Linked DNA regions of Homo sapiens. Changing the gene in region 2 together with the main gene of any one other region gives a genetic interaction. Each region holds a gene or a part of one and is shown on either strand. Other genes may lie near its edges. The genes, in order: REV3L and COPZ1.

What was found.
Region 1: changes in COPZ1 (region 2) and REV3L impair growth when combined (synthetic growth defect), as found in Homo sapiens cells (one large-scale study listed by BioGRID).

What each region holds. Positions count from the first base shown.
Region 1 is NC_000006.12:111,473,097-111,476,917, reverse strand, and holds part of REV3L (DNA polymerase zeta catalytic subunit), read left to right. Parts: exon of another isoform or gene 1-2,672; intron 2,673-3,821. UniProt on the Homo sapiens protein: Catalytic subunit of the DNA polymerase zeta complex, an error-prone polymerase specialized in translesion DNA synthesis (TLS). Lacks an intrinsic 3'-5' exonuclease activity and thus has no proofreading function.
Region 2 is NC_000012.12:54,338,531-54,342,351, reverse strand, and holds part of COPZ1 (coatomer subunit zeta-1), read right to left. Parts: intron 1,890-3,821; exon of another isoform or gene 1,848-1,889; coding exon of another isoform or gene 1,806-1,847; coding exon 1,737-1,805; intron 147-1,736; coding exon 65-146; intron 1-64. UniProt on the Homo sapiens protein: The coatomer is a cytosolic protein complex that binds to dilysine motifs and reversibly associates with Golgi non-clathrin-coated vesicles, which further mediate biosynthetic protein transport from the ER, via the Golgi up to the trans Golgi network.

The DNA.
Region 1 (3,821 bases), on a different chromosome or scaffold from region 2:
AAGGAAAAATTGATTTTCTAGATATGGTTCCAGAAATGTAGTGGGAGACATGAGATTCGTAATGGTCTCCAAAATATGTGTCAACCAAAATGCATGATTGCATGATGATCATATTGAACTTAATTATATAAATTCCATTTAGAAATTGCAAAATGATTCATAAATTAAAGCAAGCCAGTAATTTCTGGTTGTATTATTCTTACTTGTATGTAAAGTGGTTTTAATTTTAAAATGTTTTGAAAAGTAACATGGTTTTGGCACATGACAGCACTAAAACAGAGTAAAGACTAGAATTAACTTAAATATATATGAGAGCTTAATATAGGTTGAGCATCCCTTATCTAAAACTCCATAATCTGAAATCCTTCAAAATCTGAAATGTTTTGAACACCAACATGATGCCACAAGTAGAAAATTCCACACCTGACCTCATGATGGGTCGCAGTCAAAACTTCGTTTCAGGCTGGATGCAGTGGCTCATGTCTGTAATCCCAACACTTTGGGAGGCTAAGGTGGGAGGATTGCTTCAGCCCAGGAGTTCAAGACCAGCCTGGGCAACATGGAAAGACGCTATCTCTACAAAAAAATACAAAAGTTAGCCAGGCAGGGTGGTACACGTTTGTGGTTCCAGCTACTTGGGAGGCTGAGGCAGGAGGATCGCTTGAGCCCAGGAGGTGAAGGCTGCAGTGAGCCATGATTGTATGACTGCATTCCAGCCTGGGTGACAGAGCAAGTCCCTGTCTCAAAAACAATCAAAACAACTTTGTTTCATGTGTAACATTATTTAAAATTATATAAAATTACATTCAGGTTTGGTCCCATCCTCAGGATATCTCATGTATGTGCAAATATTCTAAAATCTGAAACACTTCTGGTCCCAAGCATTTCAGATAAGGGGTATTCAACTTGTATATGAAAATGGATCCCACCTTCATTTATGAGTAGGGAAAAGAAGAATTGTTTAATAAACAGTGTTGGGATAGCCAGTTAGTCATCTGGAAAAATAATGTTGGCTTCCAGAGGAGTTAAAGATTTAAATATGAAACAAAGAAACAAAAAAGGTAGGGTAATTATTTTTTACGTAATCCAGGATTGGTGAAGTCCTTTAATAGCATACTGGGTTGCTGGATTTTAGGACATAAAAATAAAATTCTGTACAGGGGAAAAAATCAAACAAAGTTAAAAGAGAAACAGACTAGTAAAACTTATTTGTATACTTCACAAAGGGCTAAGTTCCTCTTAATACAAAGAACTAGAAAATAATCCAGTAGAAAAATTAGCAAAGAGAATTCATATGAAAAAATGTACAACTTTATTTATAATATAATAAAGATGTAAATTCAAGCTACAACATACTCTTTGTCACCTATCAAATGAGCAAAGGTTATGTATAGTATAACTCGGGAAAGGTGAGAAGAGAAAATGGTCAGCCTTATACATTGCTGGTGGGATTATAAAGTATTCATACTCTATAGAAAGCAGTTTGAAAATGGTTTTCAAAAATTAAAACACAGATTTATTTCGTTCTAGTAATTCCATTATAGGATTTTATTCTCTAGAAGATTTTGCATATATGTCAAATAAATATCTAAGAATATTTGTGGCAGCATTATTTGTTACTGCAAAAGATTGGAAACATGCTAAACATATCAGTAGGGAAGTAGTTAGGTGAATTATGGTGTATATATTCAACAGAATACTAGTCAGCCTTTAAAAATAATGAGAGAATACTATGTGTACTGCTGTGGTGCTATGTCAAAGATATGAGGAAAAAAAGCAAGAGGCATGACTGCATGTGCAGTTTGCTGCCATTCGTGTGGTTAAAATATATATTTTTATATGCTATATATGCCTATGTATTAGAATAAAATTCTTTATTATAATAAAATCCATATGTGTGTGTGTGTGTGTGTGTGTGTGTGTGTGTGTATATATAGGCAGCTATAGAATGTAATGTGCATGGGAGGATACGGGAGAGTCTGATGACAGTAATTGCTCCAGTGTGTAGAAGTGGTTGCCTAGAGGACAAAGATGGACTAACTTTTAAAGTATACTGTTTGGTAATTTTTCAGTATTTTAAAATCATGTGCATGTAATACTATTCAAAGTTAATATTTTTAAGTTATGTTTTGCTTACAGGAATTGGTAAGAAGGAAAAAATAAGAGACCATAATAGTTGTTACAAACAAATGATTACTGCAATACTGTTTTTAACTTTAGTTATTGTTAGAGATCTTCTAATTCAAAGTTTTCAGTTGATGTTACATGGCTCACAGAAGGGTAGTCCTAGTAGAATGGGGGCTGAAGGAAGGCGTTGGGGTTCCTGTGAACAAATAGCATGGTGAGTGACAACCAACAGTTAAAAGCAGCATACTGCTCCTTTTGATATTTTAAGTGCATTAAATGAGGTGTGCCTTACTACTTGGAATCTACTTCAGCAGCCAGCCACAGTGTACAGCTGCCTTTTGTGGGAAAGGGATCATGGAATTGTTACTGGAGTTTGTATTCACGGTGCCGAAGGAACATGCCACCTACCACAAGGTGCAACCCACTTACAATGAGAGGACAAGGAAGCAGGGAGGGTGTCTCTGGTGGCCCAGCTCCAGGCCTGACTATCTGTATTCACCTGTATTGGATGCTGCTCACCACGTGCGTTTGATATGCTCTGCAAGGTGACTGCCTAATAGTGCATGTATGTTTGTCAGAAATAAAGCATGATTTTAATTTTGAAATATTCTTGATGTGAAAATGTTTGGTTTTGAAATTCATATTAAAATTTTCAGCATTACATGTGTCAAAAAATATCTACCATAACACTTTACATTTTTTCTTCTGTAATTAGAAAATATGATAATTTTTTTTCACCAGGCACTGTGTAGATGCCTCCAAATGCCCTCCTGTTGTCCAGTGTGCTAAATTTTTTTTTGCTGACAAGTTTTGTTTGCAATGTTAAAAGGGTTGAGAAGCATCATTCTAGTCAAATGTACTCATTTTGTATGAAGAAAACTGAAATCTACATAGCAGGCTCAGGGATTTGTCCAGTGTCCTACAGTTGGTTGGTGTGAGGCTGGATTTGAAAATTGGGGATCTTGGATCTTGACTCTTCAGCTCTCATCACCTCACACTGACCCCCTCTCCCCCCGAAACATGAGGGAATATTGGAGGAAGGCATTGATGATAATTGAAAGACAAAAATACAGAACCTCAGAGGAATTATTAAAAGAACTGCACATATGTAGTTCAGAAATCTTTGAGACCCTACTGTATCTAATAGTGCTTAGAATCTTCTTATATAATAATATTATTAATATTCTATAATCTAGAATAGATTATAGTAGGATTCGTTTTATGATGACTTGGGCTGTATCTTTAAGAAAACAAAAGATTATAGCAAAAGGAGTTTAGGGCAAACATAAATAAAAATTGATACTAAAATCGTATGTATGCTATTTCCAAAAAAGGGAGGAGGGAATATATGAGACCTTTCAAGTTCCTCTGGTACTATAATTACATTTTCTCTCATCTTGCTTTTGATTGGATTAGAATTCACGCAATTAAAGATAATCTAGGGCCAGGCACCTATAATCCCAGCACTTTGGGAAGCAGAGGCAGGAAGATTGCCTGAGCCCAGGATTTTGAGACCAGTCTGGGCAACATGGCAAGACCCCGTCTCTTTAAAAAAAAAAAAAAATCTAAGTGAAAAATGATTCAAGTCTAAATAGGTTGGGTTAAAGTAGGTTTTAGAGGATGTTGTCATTGGTGCTGGATATTTCAAAGAAATAGTTTGAACTTACTTATAAAGTAAGAAATGGGCCATGGTA
Region 2 (3,821 bases):
TTACCACCCCCTTTCCACCATGGTTCCCCCCAGCACGGGTAGTAGTGAAAGGAAAATGACCTACTGTCAGTCCGATGGGTCTTGTTGAAAATGTTCTTCTCAAAGGCCTTTTGCTCCTTGACACTGGGGTAGGTGTCGTCATAGTACTGGTCAGAGGGAAAGAAGACAGGGTTGGGTCACTAGAGCTGGAAGCCAGAATGATTAGTGACTATGTTTTGCCCTGGGATCTTGGATTTCTCTCCTTCAAGGCATGGGGCAAGGGAGAAATACTGACATGGAAAAGGAAGGATTGTAGAGGCAGAGAATGGGCAGTGAGTAATCCAAGAAAAATAAATAAAAGACCCTGCCATAAGCAACCCCACCTCACATTTCCAAGACTGTCTGAAGGCAGAAGCCTACCAGCCCTACAGTGAGGCTCTGCAGCTGTCTGCAATCTAGACCTCTCCTAAAACCATTCTCATCAAGTGTTTCCTAGGAGCTACCCCATGTCAGGAAGCAGTGCCAGAGAACACAAAAAACACTAGAAGCACAGAACACTTCCATAGACCCTCACTCACTGTATGAAGCTGAGGAATGGGGAAAGGCTACAAAAACCTCCTCCAAAGAAAGGCAAACCCTGCCCTATGATCTATCTTAGCTTTCTTTTCTGCAAGCTGAAAGAAGCATCCAGCATACCACTGAGCCCATTCCCAGGCTCTCCCTGGCAAAGGGGGCGGAGATGCAGGCTGCTAAATCGCTAGCTCTTTAGGGGCTAATCCGTCGCAGTCAGCTGAAGACCCATGACAGGTCTGGCATTTAGTAACTGGATAACTGTTTCAAAAGGTGTCCTGCATAGTTACATCCAATTACAGGGAGGAACAGCTGGTGAATTCTAAACTAATCTCTACCTGCTGATTGATTTATGCTACGCTCGCCCGGAGTTAATACACCAGGGACAGAAGAAATTTCTACAGGAGGGGGAGAATATGGAGGGAGAGAGGGTGTCCTTTCTTCTTTCTTCCAACAGATCTAAAGTTGGAAACATCACTCTGGGAAAGTCAGGAGGTAACAAGCTTGATGGTGACTATAAACCTAGGAATGGAAACCTGGAACTGCAAGACAATTCTCTGGAAAAACCCAGGCAGGGTGACATGGTATGAGGGAAGGGGACAGGAATGATGGACATGGGCGGACTGCCTCTTAGCATCTACATACTGCTTTGTTAGGAACCAAAGTTTCAAAGCTTTTCCCTGATCTGATGCTGACAACAAAGGAGGTCAAAGTCTGAGGACAGCAAGCAGGGCAGCAGTACAACTAAGGGACAAAAGAAAACAGGTTTTATCTGGAGTAGGCAAGATAAGATGGAAGAATTCAGGCCGGGTGTGGTGGCTCACACCTGTAATCCCAACACTTTGGGAGGCCAAGGCGGGCGAATCATGAGGTCAGGAGTTTGAGACCAGTCTGGCCAACCTGCTGAAACCCTGTCTCTACTAAAGATACAAAAAATTAGCCGGGGGTGGTAGCGCGTGCCTGTAATCCCAGCTACTTGGGAGGCTGAGGCTGCAGTGAGCCAAGGTCACGCCATTGCACTCCAGCCTGGGTGATAAGAGCGAAACTCCATCTCAAAAAAAAAAGATGGAAGTATTCTCAAAATTATACTACTGAGGAACATAAGTTAATAAGGTATCAGTCCCAAGATTCAAATCTCAGAATAAACCTTTGTGCTGTTCCTAAACTAATTCGAAAGGGAATCTCACCTTGGCAAAAAGTCGATCTCCATCATTGTCCAGAATCAGGATGGCTTTGACAGTATACAGGGAAGGTTCCTGAAGAGATACGAACATACCTTCAGTCCTGAAGCCTCCCATCACCACTGGTAAACCAGATACCTTCCCCTAGTCCCACTGGGGCTGCAAGGGGATACAGAGGTACCTCTGTAAGTCCCTTACCTCAACTTGGTCAGATTTTGATATTTCCCATTGAGAAAGACCCAGGGTAAGTAAACTGAATTGACAGAGAAAGCATTTAAACAAAGGATTCCAAAGTACCATCAGAGAAACAGTTTCTCTGACTCACAGGGGGCTTAATCAAGAGAGGTCATGCTGTTATTTCCAAATATTATGGTACAGTTATTTTCCAAATTACCCTCTCCCTTCCTGCTCTCCCATGTACAGGTGGCTATAGAATGTGACCAGATTAATTAAAAGGCACTGAACAAAGCCATTTGAAAATAGGGTTGAATGTCCTAGTATACTTGGAAGTTTCTGCAGTCCGAATGCAGTAGCAATGCAGAAGCATAAAGCAAGCCTTCCCTAAACCACCCACACACTAAGCAGAGGGAAAAGAGCGTTTACACACACACACACACACACACACACACACACACACACACGCACAGGCACACCAGTTCTCAATGCAGCCTAGTAAAACAGCCATCTTCAAAAACTCTCCTATGTTCTCCAATTCTTCCACTATACCTTAACCACTACCACTTAACTTCCAAGGACAAAAGCCAACCTGAATTTTGGGGGAGTTAAGAAGCAGTGAGAAGATGATCTATCTGAGAAACACTCTGGGGCCTAGAGTGAGTGAGCAAGAGGGTAATTTTTTTTCCACTACCAAGAATCAAATAAGGAATCACGGCCTCAGTCTTAATGGTTCTTCTTCAACTGTAAGTATATCACTTGCAAAACCTGTGGTGGTCTGTTGCTCTCCTCTACCACTGCAACTTCAAGGGAGCCAGCTAACTAGGAGAAGGAAAATCGCAGGAGGCTGAGGCAGGAGGATTGCTTAAGGCCAGTTCAAGACCAGCCTGGGAAACACAGGGAGACCCCCCATCTCTACAAAAATAAAAAAAATTAGCCAGGTGTGGTGGCGTGCATCTATAGTCCTAGCTACTCAGGAGGCTGAGGTGATAGGATCTCTTGAGCCCAGGAGTTTAAGACCACGCTGAGCTAGGACTGCGCCACTGCACTCCAGGCTGGGTGACAGAGTGAAACCCCATCTCTAATTGATTGAATAGAAAAAACCAAAAGTGTGGAGAGATAGTGATGTGTGCATGAAAGGTATTTGCAGCCTCACATTCCTTGACTTTCTTTTTTTTTTTTTTTTTTTTAAGAGAAAAGGTGTCACTGTATTGTTCAGGCTGGTCTTGAACTCCTAGGCTCAAACAATCCTCCCACCTAGGCCTCCCAAAGTGCAAGTGTGAGCCACTGCGCCCGACCTACATTCCTTGACTTTCTAATCAACATTACTTACCATTGATATCCCTTGTGCTGAGACAAGGCTGTTGCTTTGCTACCTCTTTCCTGGCCTTATTTAAGAAACCCACAGTCCTCACAGGAGCCAAACACAAAAGTATGTGTTTGACAGATATCCAAGAGTGAGGAGGAAAAAATCATTGCCAAGAACCCAGAAACTGCAGCCTCTACAAACATAAATTGCCTCATGAGGCTTCAGGAGGTTTATGGTTCCATGCAAAGAATCAACCCTGTTTGCGGGGGCAGAGGAGGGCAGTTCAGAATGGAAGTAAAAGGAACCCAGTCTTTTGACAACAAGGTGATGAGGAACATAAGCTTTCCCTACTTGAATTCTTGAGGACTGCAATTTTTGTTTTGTTCGCTGGTTTGTCCCATTTGTCCAGAACAATGCCTGACACATACTAAACTCTCAATATTTGGTGAATAATTCAGAGAATAAAGGAAGTTTGAGAATAAAGTTAAAATACCTTGACGCAGTATGCATCTAAGGGACTACTTATAATTAGACCTCCACATATAAGTGGATTTTCTGATGTGGCCACTTTGGGTGATATTACTACCAACTTTATCCCTCCTCTGATA